Linked DNA regions of Homo sapiens. The protein of the gene in region 2 purifies or fractionates together with the protein of the main gene of each other region. This does not show direct contact. Each region holds a gene or a part of one and is shown on either strand. Other genes may lie near its edges.

What was found.
Region 1: the proteins of LRRC46 (region 2) and LRSAM1 purify together in Homo sapiens (affinity purification with mass spectrometry; 4 studies listed by BioGRID and IntAct, with this or other methods). This does not show direct contact.
Region 3: the proteins of LRRC46 (region 2) and POLE purify together in Homo sapiens (affinity purification with mass spectrometry; 4 studies listed by BioGRID and IntAct, with this or other methods). This does not show direct contact.

The regions. Positions count from the first base shown.
Region 1 is NC_000009.12:127,496,510-127,500,009, forward strand, and holds part of LRSAM1 (E3 ubiquitin-protein ligase LRSAM1), read left to right. Parts: intron 1-743; coding exon 744-825; intron 826-3,500.
Region 2 is NC_000017.11:47,834,670-47,838,219, forward strand, and holds the end of LRRC46 (leucine-rich repeat-containing protein 46), read left to right. Parts: intron 1-683; coding exon 684-730; intron 731-996; coding exon 997-1,106; intron 1,107-1,363; coding exon 1,364-1,433; intron 1,434-1,663; coding exon 1,664-1,806; intron 1,807-2,080; coding exon 2,081-2,451; 3' UTR 2,452-3,050; downstream 3,051-3,550. Other genes in the region: SCRN2 (secernin-2), read right to left, coding at 3,175-3,333. UniProt on the Homo sapiens protein: Required for normal spermatogenesis and male fertility. Plays an important role in sperm flagellum biogenesis.
Region 3 is NC_000012.12:132,622,924-132,625,802, forward strand, and holds the end of POLE (DNA polymerase epsilon catalytic subunit A), read right to left. Parts: intron 2,848-2,879; coding exon 2,722-2,847; intron 2,497-2,721; coding exon of another isoform or gene 2,257-2,496; exon of another isoform or gene 2,093-2,256; intron 2,072-2,092; coding exon 1,982-2,071; intron 1,888-1,981; coding exon 1,774-1,887; 3' UTR 839-1,773; downstream 1-838. UniProt on the Homo sapiens protein: Catalytic component of the DNA polymerase epsilon complex. Participates in chromosomal DNA replication.

The DNA.
Region 1 (3,500 bases), on a different chromosome or scaffold from region 2:
GAATACTCATCGCTGTGCCAGCTAACTTTGTAGCACCTGCACGTGCGGGGCACCATTTTAAGCACTTTTTGTATTCGAACTCACTGAATTCTCCCGACAGCCCAGCAGGGTACATATCATTATCATCATCTTTCAGTTGAGACCCAGTAAGGCAATAACTTGGCCCAAGGTCACACAGCAGAGTGAGGTCTCCACCCCAAGCAGTGTGGCCCCAGAGTTCGTGTTCTTTTTCATGAGACTCTCCTGCCCCTCCCTGGACAGATGCAGACACCAGGGTCCAAGAGGACTGGATGGCACTGAGGGTCACAAGGCCATGCCGCTCAGGCTCTGGAGGCTGAGGGACTGTGGGGCTCGTGTGCTGCTGCTGCTTAGTGGCTTGGCCTCCAAGGCTTCTCTCCTCCCCCACCTGGTGGGGAAGTGGCTGAGGTGTGCAGGTGAAGCCTGGCACCGGGAAGCAGTTGCTAAACCATAGCTGTTGCTAGTGCTGGTTTCCCTTTGGGCCTCAGTTTCCCCCCAACCCCTGCCACACTGATTGTTGGGCTGAGGCCTGGGGAGGTTGCCCTCACAGCTATGGTGCCGCACTGCCTCATCCTGACCGTGGGCCCCGCCAGGCCCCGGAAGGCTTCCACATTTCCAGCAGGAGGTGTCGACGGTCCTGTGAGCCTGGGCCTGTGCCACGTGGCTCACACCATTTAGCGGGCTCCCGCCCAGGCCACAGTCTGCACTTCCTTGAACTGTCACAGGTGGGCGTCTCAGAAGCTGGCCTGCAGCACGAGATCCTCCGGAGAGTCCAGGAACTGCTGGATGCAGCCAGGATCCAGCCAGGTACAAGCACAGCTCCAGCCTCTTCCAGGCAGGGCTCCAGCCGTATGTGTGGGCTCTGGTGGGGACAGTCATTTGCTTACATTTCAGGATGACTCCTGAGGGCTGGTTCTAGCCTCTGCTGGTCGGTAAGGTTTCCTCCCAAGGAGCAGGCTTAGGGATCAGTGAGCCCATTTTACAGATGGGAAAAATGGGCCACCAAATTGGGAGAACAGGAGACCTCCACGTAGCAGTGGAGGGGCCCTCCCAGCTCCCTGTCCCATAGCCTTCCCTCAGTCCACCCTACAGACGCTGGGATCCACACACTGAGGGACTTTGGACTAGAGGGAGAAATAGCCCGTCCCCAGGGCCTGCAGTATACCCAATGCTGGGCCTGAGGCATGCCTGTGGACATGGAGAGATGTCCACAACAGGCTGTGAAGGGGCAAAGGCAGGTCGTGAGGCCCGTGGGGAGAAGGGGCAGGTGTGGAGTCTGGGGTCTGCCATGTGCTGAGCATGATCTGGGAGCCCGGCACCTGCCCACCGCTGTGCATGAACCACGTTGAGGAACCTCCGGATCCATCCCGTGAGGAGGCACTGTTGTGGTCCTCATTTTCAAGATGGGGAAACTGAAGCGCAAAGAGGTTAGCATGTCCCCCATCAGGTCCCATTGCTGGCAGATGGTGGAGCCACTGGGCTTGCCTGCCTCCCTGGGGAAGAGGTGAGGGGCCAGAGCAGGGGTGAAGGAGAGGGCAGTCTTGTGCTGCTGGGCTGGGCGAGGCTCTGGACAGGGCATTTTTAGCCAGAGCCAAGGAAGAAGCGGAGGAGCTGAGGCGAAGGTGGAGTTCTGGACTGGACCTCAGTGGGGAGGCCCCGGGGCTCCAGGGGGCTGGGCTGACTGCAGCCCCAGGATAGCTTCAGGCACCAGTTTTGCAGCTACTTTTACTCCAGGGACACTGACTCAACCCCCAAAAAGTCATTAAACTTCTTAGCTTTTTGATATCAAGTCATGTGCAGAATAGGCCCCTTCTGGATGTTCCTGACCCCCCAGCTCTCAGACTGGAGATCAGAAGAGTTTTCCATCAGGAGTTGGGGTCACCCCCGGCAGACAAGCCTCACGTGAGCAGGAGCCACAAACAAACAGGTGCCCTTCACCCTGAGTGGGGTGCAGTGCCTCTGAGCCCAGCAGTCCTCAGGACCGGCTGCTTCTCACTGTTTGAGTCATCCCTGGAGCAAACAAGCAGGTTCTTCCTCTCCATAGCAGATTGGCCATGAGGATCTGTGGCCACATGCAGAAAACGGATGCCTGGGCTGCTCAGGGCTTCCTGCTTGTGCCCATTGGCAGGGGAAGGGGCCATGGTGGGATCCGTCCTCAGTTCCAGAAGGCAAGGGAAACCCTCAATTTCCTAGCAATTCTCTTATTACTCCCAGAAATCGGTATACTTTATATCAAATATAGAGGCTGGGGCCAGGTGTGGTGGCTCACACCTGTAATCCCAGCACTTTGGGAGGCTGAGGTGGGCGGATCACCTGAGGTCAGGAGTTCGAGACCAGCCTGGCCAACATGGTGAAACCCTGTCTCTACTAAAAATACAAAAATTAGCCAGGCGTGGTGGCGTGCACCTGTAGTCCCAGACTCAGGAGGCTGAGGCAGCAGAATTGCTTGAACCCAGGAGGCGGAAGTTACAGTGAGCCAAGATCATGCCATTGCATTCCAGCCTGGGTGACAAGTGAAACTCTGTCTCAAAAAAAAAAAAGAAAAAGAAAAAAACAAATATAGAAGCTGGGTGCAGTGGCTCATGGCTGTAATCCCACACTTTGGGAGGCCTACGTGGGAGGATCACTCAAGCCCAGGAGTTTGAGACCAGCCTGGGCGACATAGGGAGACCCCTTCTCTACAAAAAATAAAATAAAATTAGCTGGGTGTGGTGGTGCACACCTTAGTTCCAGCTACTCGGGGGGCAAAGGTGGGAGGATCGCTTGAGCTTGGGAGGTCGAGGCTGCAGTGAGCCATGATTGTGCCCCTGCACTCCAGCCTGGAAAAGAGTGGGACTGTCTCAAAAACAAAACAAAAAAATTAAAAAAAATTAGCAAGGCGTCATCCCAGCTACTCTGGAGGCTGAGGTAGGAGGATTGCTTGAGCCTGGGAGGTTGAGGCTGCAGTGAGCTGTGATCATGATACTATACTCCAGCCTGGGTGACAGAGCAAGACCCTGTCTAAAAAAAAATATATATATATATATATATGAATGCCCCCTCGAAATGGTGGTTTGGGGGGAAGCACTGATAGCCTTAGAGGGTCTAGTGTTGTAACAGCCTTTAAAAAATCTTTAGTTGTGGCCGGGTGCGGTGCCTCACGCCTGTAATCCCAGCACTTTGGGAAGCCGAGGCGGGCAGATCACGAGGTCAGGAGATGGAGACCATCCTGGCTAACATGGTGAAACCCTGTCTCTACTAAAATTAGCTGGGCACAGTGGCGTGTGCCTATAGTCCCAGATACGCAAGAGGAGAGGCTGAGGCAGGAGAATCACTTGAATCCAGGAGGCGGAGGTTGCAGTGAGCCGAGATCGCACCACACTGCACTCCAGCCTGGCAAGAGTGAGACTCCATCTCAAAAAAAAAAAGAAAAACTTTAGTTTTTCCTGTTATAAAAAATAATGCTTGTAATTCAAGCCGTAGAATAAAGTGAACCGTGATCA
Region 2 (3,550 bases):
ACGAATGACATAGGGTCCTGAATTGAAAAACTAATTCCCTCAAAATAGATCCTGAACATGACCTGTGCTCCTTCCACTGTTCTTTAGGCACTTCTCTTGATCTAGAAGTTCTTTTTGGCATCTACTCTAAATCTTTCACGTTAAATAGCTCCAGCCCATTTCCTGTTTTGAAGAAGAGGAAACTATGAAGATTCCTGTACATCATTCAGATCCTACTTGAAGGCTGTTTGGTGGTGGTGGTGGTGGTTGGTTGATCTTCAGCCTTCCCCTGGTTGAGTATTCCCAGCTCGCTTCAACTTTCCCCATAGAAACTTTAACCGTCAAGTTCCTGTATGCTCATTGTTCTCTCTGTGTATGCAAGCCACCACCAAGGCCCTTTCCGTTTTCCTGGTGGCTTCTTAGTTTCCTTTTCTGATTCCCAGGTCACTCTTTGGTTGTGGAATCAGAAGAGTATACGTAGTCAGGTTTAGATACCCCAGGTTTACACCCTTAACCATCCACATGGGGAAAGAAAATCATCTTTCTTAAGGTAGTGGCAACCTGTTCAAGGAGTGGGGTGATCATTCCCAAAGTGCCAGATCTCCAGCTGCAGAGTAGACATGGTCTTGGGGCTTTGTCCCCGTAAAGGGCCCCTGACGCATCTGATCTCAGCTTGGTTTCCCCACTTCGGTTTCTTCTTGCAGAATAAGATCCAGCAAATTGAGAACCTGGCTTGCATCCCCTCCTTGCGGTATGTGGTGCCAGGGCTCAGGCAGGGGAAGAGGGGTTGGGGGAACCTAGCCATATCCCAAAGAACTGGTTCAGATTTCTCCAAGCCTGGGTCCTTGTCAGTCAAGGACCAGCAAGCCTAGATCTACTCCCTCACCCCAGAAGGCCATGTGTCCCCACTGGTCATCAGCTGCCTAGCCCAGGGGCCCCGGTGTCAGGTGCCCTCCTCTTTTCTTCCAGCTGTTCCATGATTCAGCTCTGCCTCTGTACCCCTTCCTTCCCCTACAGCTTCCTGTCTCTGGCAGGAAACCAAATCAGGCAGGTGGAAAACCTCCTCGACCTCCCATGCCTCCAGTTTCTGGACCTTTCTGAGAACCTGATAGAAACATTGAAGCTGGGTAGGAACCCACTCGCCCTGGCTCACCAAACACATCCCCTGTGGGGCCTGCCCTCCCCTCTGCACCCATCTGCCCATGCTTCTATTAGCCATGCCCCTGCAGGTCCACATTTCATCCTCAGGGAGTTCAAGGGGTTGTGCCTAGAGGTACTGGCTTTGGACTAGAAAGTGGGTATGAGAACCCCATTCCCATCGCTTCATGGTCTTTTGGCTAAGATCAAGTGAGAACCCCATTTCCTCTCTCTTTGCTGTGTGCAGATGAGTTCCCCCAGAGCCTTCTCATCCTCAACCTGTCTGGAAACAGCTGCACCAACCAGGATGGCTACCGGTAAGGAGTGGAGGGTGGGAAGAAAGGTCATGGCTGAGCTCTACCTGCTAACTCAGCCCAGACCCCTCTCAGCCTGCAAACCTGGGGTCCTGTCCATGACACCTTCTCCCCCACCTCCTACCTAGCTCATGAGCCACCACCCCTCCGGGTGTGAGTGCTGTGGTGCGTGTCTTTGCATCCTCCACGCCAGGGTGCCCTCCTGGGTAACCTCTGCTCCTTCTGCTCTGCAGCGAGCTGGTGACAGAAGCCCTGCCACTTCTCCTGGACCTGGACGGGCAGCCTGTGGTGGAGCGCTGGATTTCGGATGAGGAGGATGAAGCCTCAAGCGATGAGGAGTTCCCAGAGCTGAGTGGCCCATTCTGCTCAGAACGAGGTGACCCTGCTTTCCAAGGTTTTCAGCCTCCCCAGAGCCCACCTCTGCCCTGTGGGACATGAGGGAAGCTAAGGTGGCAGTGGCGTCCGGGGAGGGGAGCCCCAAGTTCAGATCAACATCTGGGCCAGAGCCAGGTGTCAGTCCTGGGCCCCAGCCTCAGGCTCCTTCCCACAAGGGACAAGGGGCCAGCCAGAGACTTCCCTGAGCCCAGGGACCCTCCTGCTGAGCCCAGGGCTCCACCCACCCTGTACCCTCCACCCCCGGCCCCTCCCAGGCTTCCTCAAGGAGCTGGAGCAGGAGCTGAGCAGGCACAGGGAGCACCGGCAACAGACGGCCCTGACAGAGCACCTGCTGAGGATGGAGATGCAGCCCACCCTCACCGACCTGCCCCTGCTACCTGGGGTGCCCATGGCTGGGGACAGCAGCCCTTCTGCCACTCCTGCGCAAGGGGAGGAGACAGTCCCTGAGGCCGTCTCCTCACCCCAGGCCTCCTCTCCCACCAAGAAACCATGCAGTCTGATTCCCAGGGGCCACCAAAGCTCTTTCTGGGGAAGGAAGGGGGCACGAGCAGCCACAGCCCCCAAGGCCTCTGTGGCTGAGGCCCCCAGCACAACCAAAACTACGGCCAAGAGAAGCAAGAAATGATTCTCTGTCAACCTTTCTCTACTAGTGGAGAGGAGTGGGGCCTGCCCCTCTTCTCAGACCTCTGACCTGTGACAGAAGCCCATCCCCAGTAAAGTGTCTCTAGGCCCTGAGTATGCTTTTCATGTCACTTGGGGTATCTCAGGGGAAGAAACCAGTGAAAGCTCCAGGAAACAAAATACAGAGCTCAGTGAGCCACCTGATTCTAAAGAGCGAGTCTGGAATCTTTCGGGAGCTACCCACAGGGCAGGCATGCCTCAGGCCCCCGCTGGCTTCCTGGCTCCCACTTGGGCAGGAAGCGGGCACCACCTCATGGAAGAGGCATGCCATCTCACTGCCACCCCTAGCGAGTGCCCTTCCCCGGTCCAAGCCAAGGACCAAGGAGCTGTGGTCCTAGTCATCCCCAACAGCAGCCAGCTCCTGTCCCCTCCCTGTCCTCCTGCCCAGTCCCCATCACTCACCCACTCATAGGAATGAGTACACAACCACAGGCCCCGCAGCCAGCCCACAGCTGCCTTTGGGCCTCACTTGGCTCTCCCACCCCCACTGGTCCTGGGATAAAGTTCACTGAAGAGAAAATAAAGCACATTTATTAAGGCAAAGGCCAAGCTGGCCGCTCAGAACATGGCCAAGGAGCGTGAAGGGATTGCTCCACTTTACCACCACTCAGGGCACCCAGGCCCCAGGGGTCCTGGGTCCACCCCAGGCCAGCAGAAGCTATGAAGCTTACGCATAAGCCTGGCTCTCCCTCTTCACGAAGGCCTGGAAGAGGCTGCCCAGCTCCCAGAGGGGTGGGGCCCACTCGCCGGCCAGCAGCCCCTGTGTGGCCTCGAGGCCTTCCTGCTCCAGATCCTGCTGTTTCTGCTGGAGCTGCTGCCCCCGATCCTGCCCCAAGGGAAAGCTGAGATGAGTCTGTCCGGGACAGGCTTCCCGCCAGGTGAAGGGGGGACTGTGTACCACCTCACACAAGCAGGAGAAAGGAGATACCCCCCGACATTCCCCAAAGGCAGTTGCTGGCTTTGAAGGGAGGAACTCCTCTCCCCAGCTCTGAAATCTCTTCCACTCCCTAGTTCCTTCATATTTCCAGAGTCCCACTGGGAGT
Region 3 (2,879 bases), on a different chromosome or scaffold from region 2:
ATCCTCAGATGCTGCAGTGGTTAGACTGGTGCCCACTGGGTGGGGGGAGGAGCCCAGAACAGCGTCATGATGTCACCTGTGCCAGTGACAGATGACATCCTGCCTCTGAAGGGAAACCCAGTCTCAGGAGAGCAACACCACGCCCAAAGGTCAAAGAGCGGAGAAGGGCGGGTAAGACGACCCTGGTCTGACCCTAAAGCCTGAGTTTGGAGGTCTCAGCACAACTCCAGAGTCCTCATCCCAGCGCTGTGTTCAGGTGGCGAGAACATGTCTTCCGTGGGCCCCATTTCCCTTGACTGTGGCCTCCCAGCCTCGGGCATCGGCCTCAGGTCACCCCACGGCCTGCACATGCTGTGTGGCTCACAAATATCCAGCTCATTTTTGGAGAAACTGGCTCTTCTGGTTGAGCCGCTGCTTGGGAACCAGGGCCAGAGCTTCCCGTTTCTGACCCCTCCACCACTACTCAAATGCCCGCAGCTAGCCTCACAGTGAACCCAGGCTGACTGGCGCCCACGGCTGCACCGGGCGACCCCTGGTCCTGCTAGGTGGCCTTCCTGGGGGACGAGCGGCTGTCCCCTGGCCCCATCACTCCTCATTCCTGAGGGTTCTCCAGATTCGCTTCCAGGAATGAAGCCTAGTCAGCCAGCCTCCCTCCTCCCCTGCTTGCCCTAATTTGATTTGATCTCCACTCTGGAGGCCTCAGCACTCCTCCATCTGAGCAGGCATCAGGTTTCTCCAGGCAGGCGGCCCCAGCAGCATCCAGGGGCCAAACACGTGCCCAGTGGTACCCAGTCCCCGATCTGAGGCGCTCTGCACAAATACACAGTGACAACCTAGAGAAACTTCAGTATGAAATACAAATAAAAACAAAGTGTAGCAGCGATGGCCTCAGACAGTAGATGGCAGGGACAAACTAAGGCTGGCTCTGGGCCAAAGACACGAGCCTCCTGGGGAGCCTGTGGGGCCCCCTCCCTCCTGTGAGGCTCTCGTCTGGGGTGTCTGCATTTCTGATTTACATTTCATACTTGTTTGGTGCCCTGTGAAATTGGCCTTTCTTCTTTCTGCTTCCAGCTGGTCCTGTGTGGAGGTGAAGGACAAGGGCTGCAGTGAGCCAAAAGTGAGGTGCACAGAGGTCTTGTTTTCCTGAGGCTGATAGAGGGTTCCCTCTAGACCCGGCTCCAAATAAGCAGGGCTCACAAGCCAAAATCCAGATTCTCACGGGTTAGGGTCTGGATTCCTGGGGAAACCAGCCCACAAACTGCTCCTGTGAGGCTGTGGGGCCAGCCCATTTCTCCATGCAAACAGGTGAGACTCCAGCCCCACCAGGGCCTTGGGAACCCGTCTCGTCTCAGAGCCCAATCTCAGGGAGCCAGAAGCCCCCAGGGGCTTTTCCTCCCTCTGGGAGGCAGGACAAAGAACTAGGGGCACCTAGAGGACGCTCCCACCCCACCAGGTGTGGTGCAGGAAGCAACAGAGGCCTGGAAAAGCATTCACTGCGTGAGAAACGGCGCCCAGGGCACTCGCAGCCTCGCTCACGGCCTGCTTCTTCAGGTGCTCTGGCGAGGCCAGGGCCACATCCTGCTCCCGCTCCCTCCTGTGACGTCTGAGCTCCCTGAAAATGGTTTTCTTTGGTTTCCTCCCCGTTCCCTGGCCTGGGGTCACAGGTTTGGACAGTCAGGGTGGTCAGTGGTCTGGTCACTGGAAGCACGGGGATGTGGCCTTGGCATCAGGAGGCCTGGCACGGACGCAGAGGCACCCGGGGCCCGGGGCTGGCTAATGGCCCAGCTGTGGGTTCTTCTGCAGCAGCCACTCCAGGGTCTCCAGGAGGTACGACATGCCGTAGTGCTGGGCAATGTTCCGGAATATTCCGATCTGTTCCATGAAGACCTGCAGGAATAAACAGGCACAGTGAGACCCCAGTCCACTCAGAGAGGAGGCCAAGGAGGCCAGGCTGAGCCGAGGCAGATGAGGGAGAGCCCACCTGGGTGTGGATGGTGAGGGCGAAGTCTCCCGCGCAGCTGCAGTACACAGGCATGCTGGTCTCCTTCACCCCGCGGCACTTCAGGCAGACCTGAAAGGGAGCAGCCCCGATGGGCGCCAGCCCTCCCGCGCTGGCCAGACCTGCCTGCTGCTTCTTCACAGGCTCGCGAGACACATTCGTGGGCCCATCAGTAAGCCTCGAGCCCCTGCTGTGTGCAGCCAGCCCTCGGTTATGAGTAAAATGCACGACCTCATCCCACGGTGCCAGCGCCTTCCCTACACCCACCCTCGCTGTGGATGTTCCACCCCAGATGCCCAGTCCTGAGGCCTCCTCCAGGCCCTGCTCACTCCCTCCATCCTGCAGGCCTGAACGCCGTGCACCACCACACGGCAGCTTGGCGCGTCCCCCAGCCTCTGCTCAGATGCCCCTCGGCAAGACCTTCCTGTGGCCGAGCTGTGCAACTCCCTCTTCCTCCTTTCCTTCTCTTCACACTTGGGAGTGTCTGCCTCCTTCCGCTAGAACGAAGCACCCACAAGGCCAGCTCTTGACCCAAGGCAGGTGCTCAACCAGTGTGGACAGAACAGTCCATCAGGCTCAGGGCATGGACTGGTCTGCAGGGCAGGCCCCTTGGAAGACACCAGGGCGTGCCTCAGGACCTGCACACACCCCGGCTCCCGGGAGTGCACAGAAACCCCCCTGTGGACTCCAGGGCACACGGGCAGGCGGCATGCACGACTCACCAGGTCCTGCAGGGTGAAGGCCATCAGCTTCTTCTGTAGAACTTCCACCAGCGTCATCTCGATGGCAGAGGAGTCGTAGGGCGCCTGACAGTTGGAGCAGAGCCACTGAGGCAGGACCGCCCCATCCTAGGCAGAGCAAGAGTGCGAGAGGTCACCAG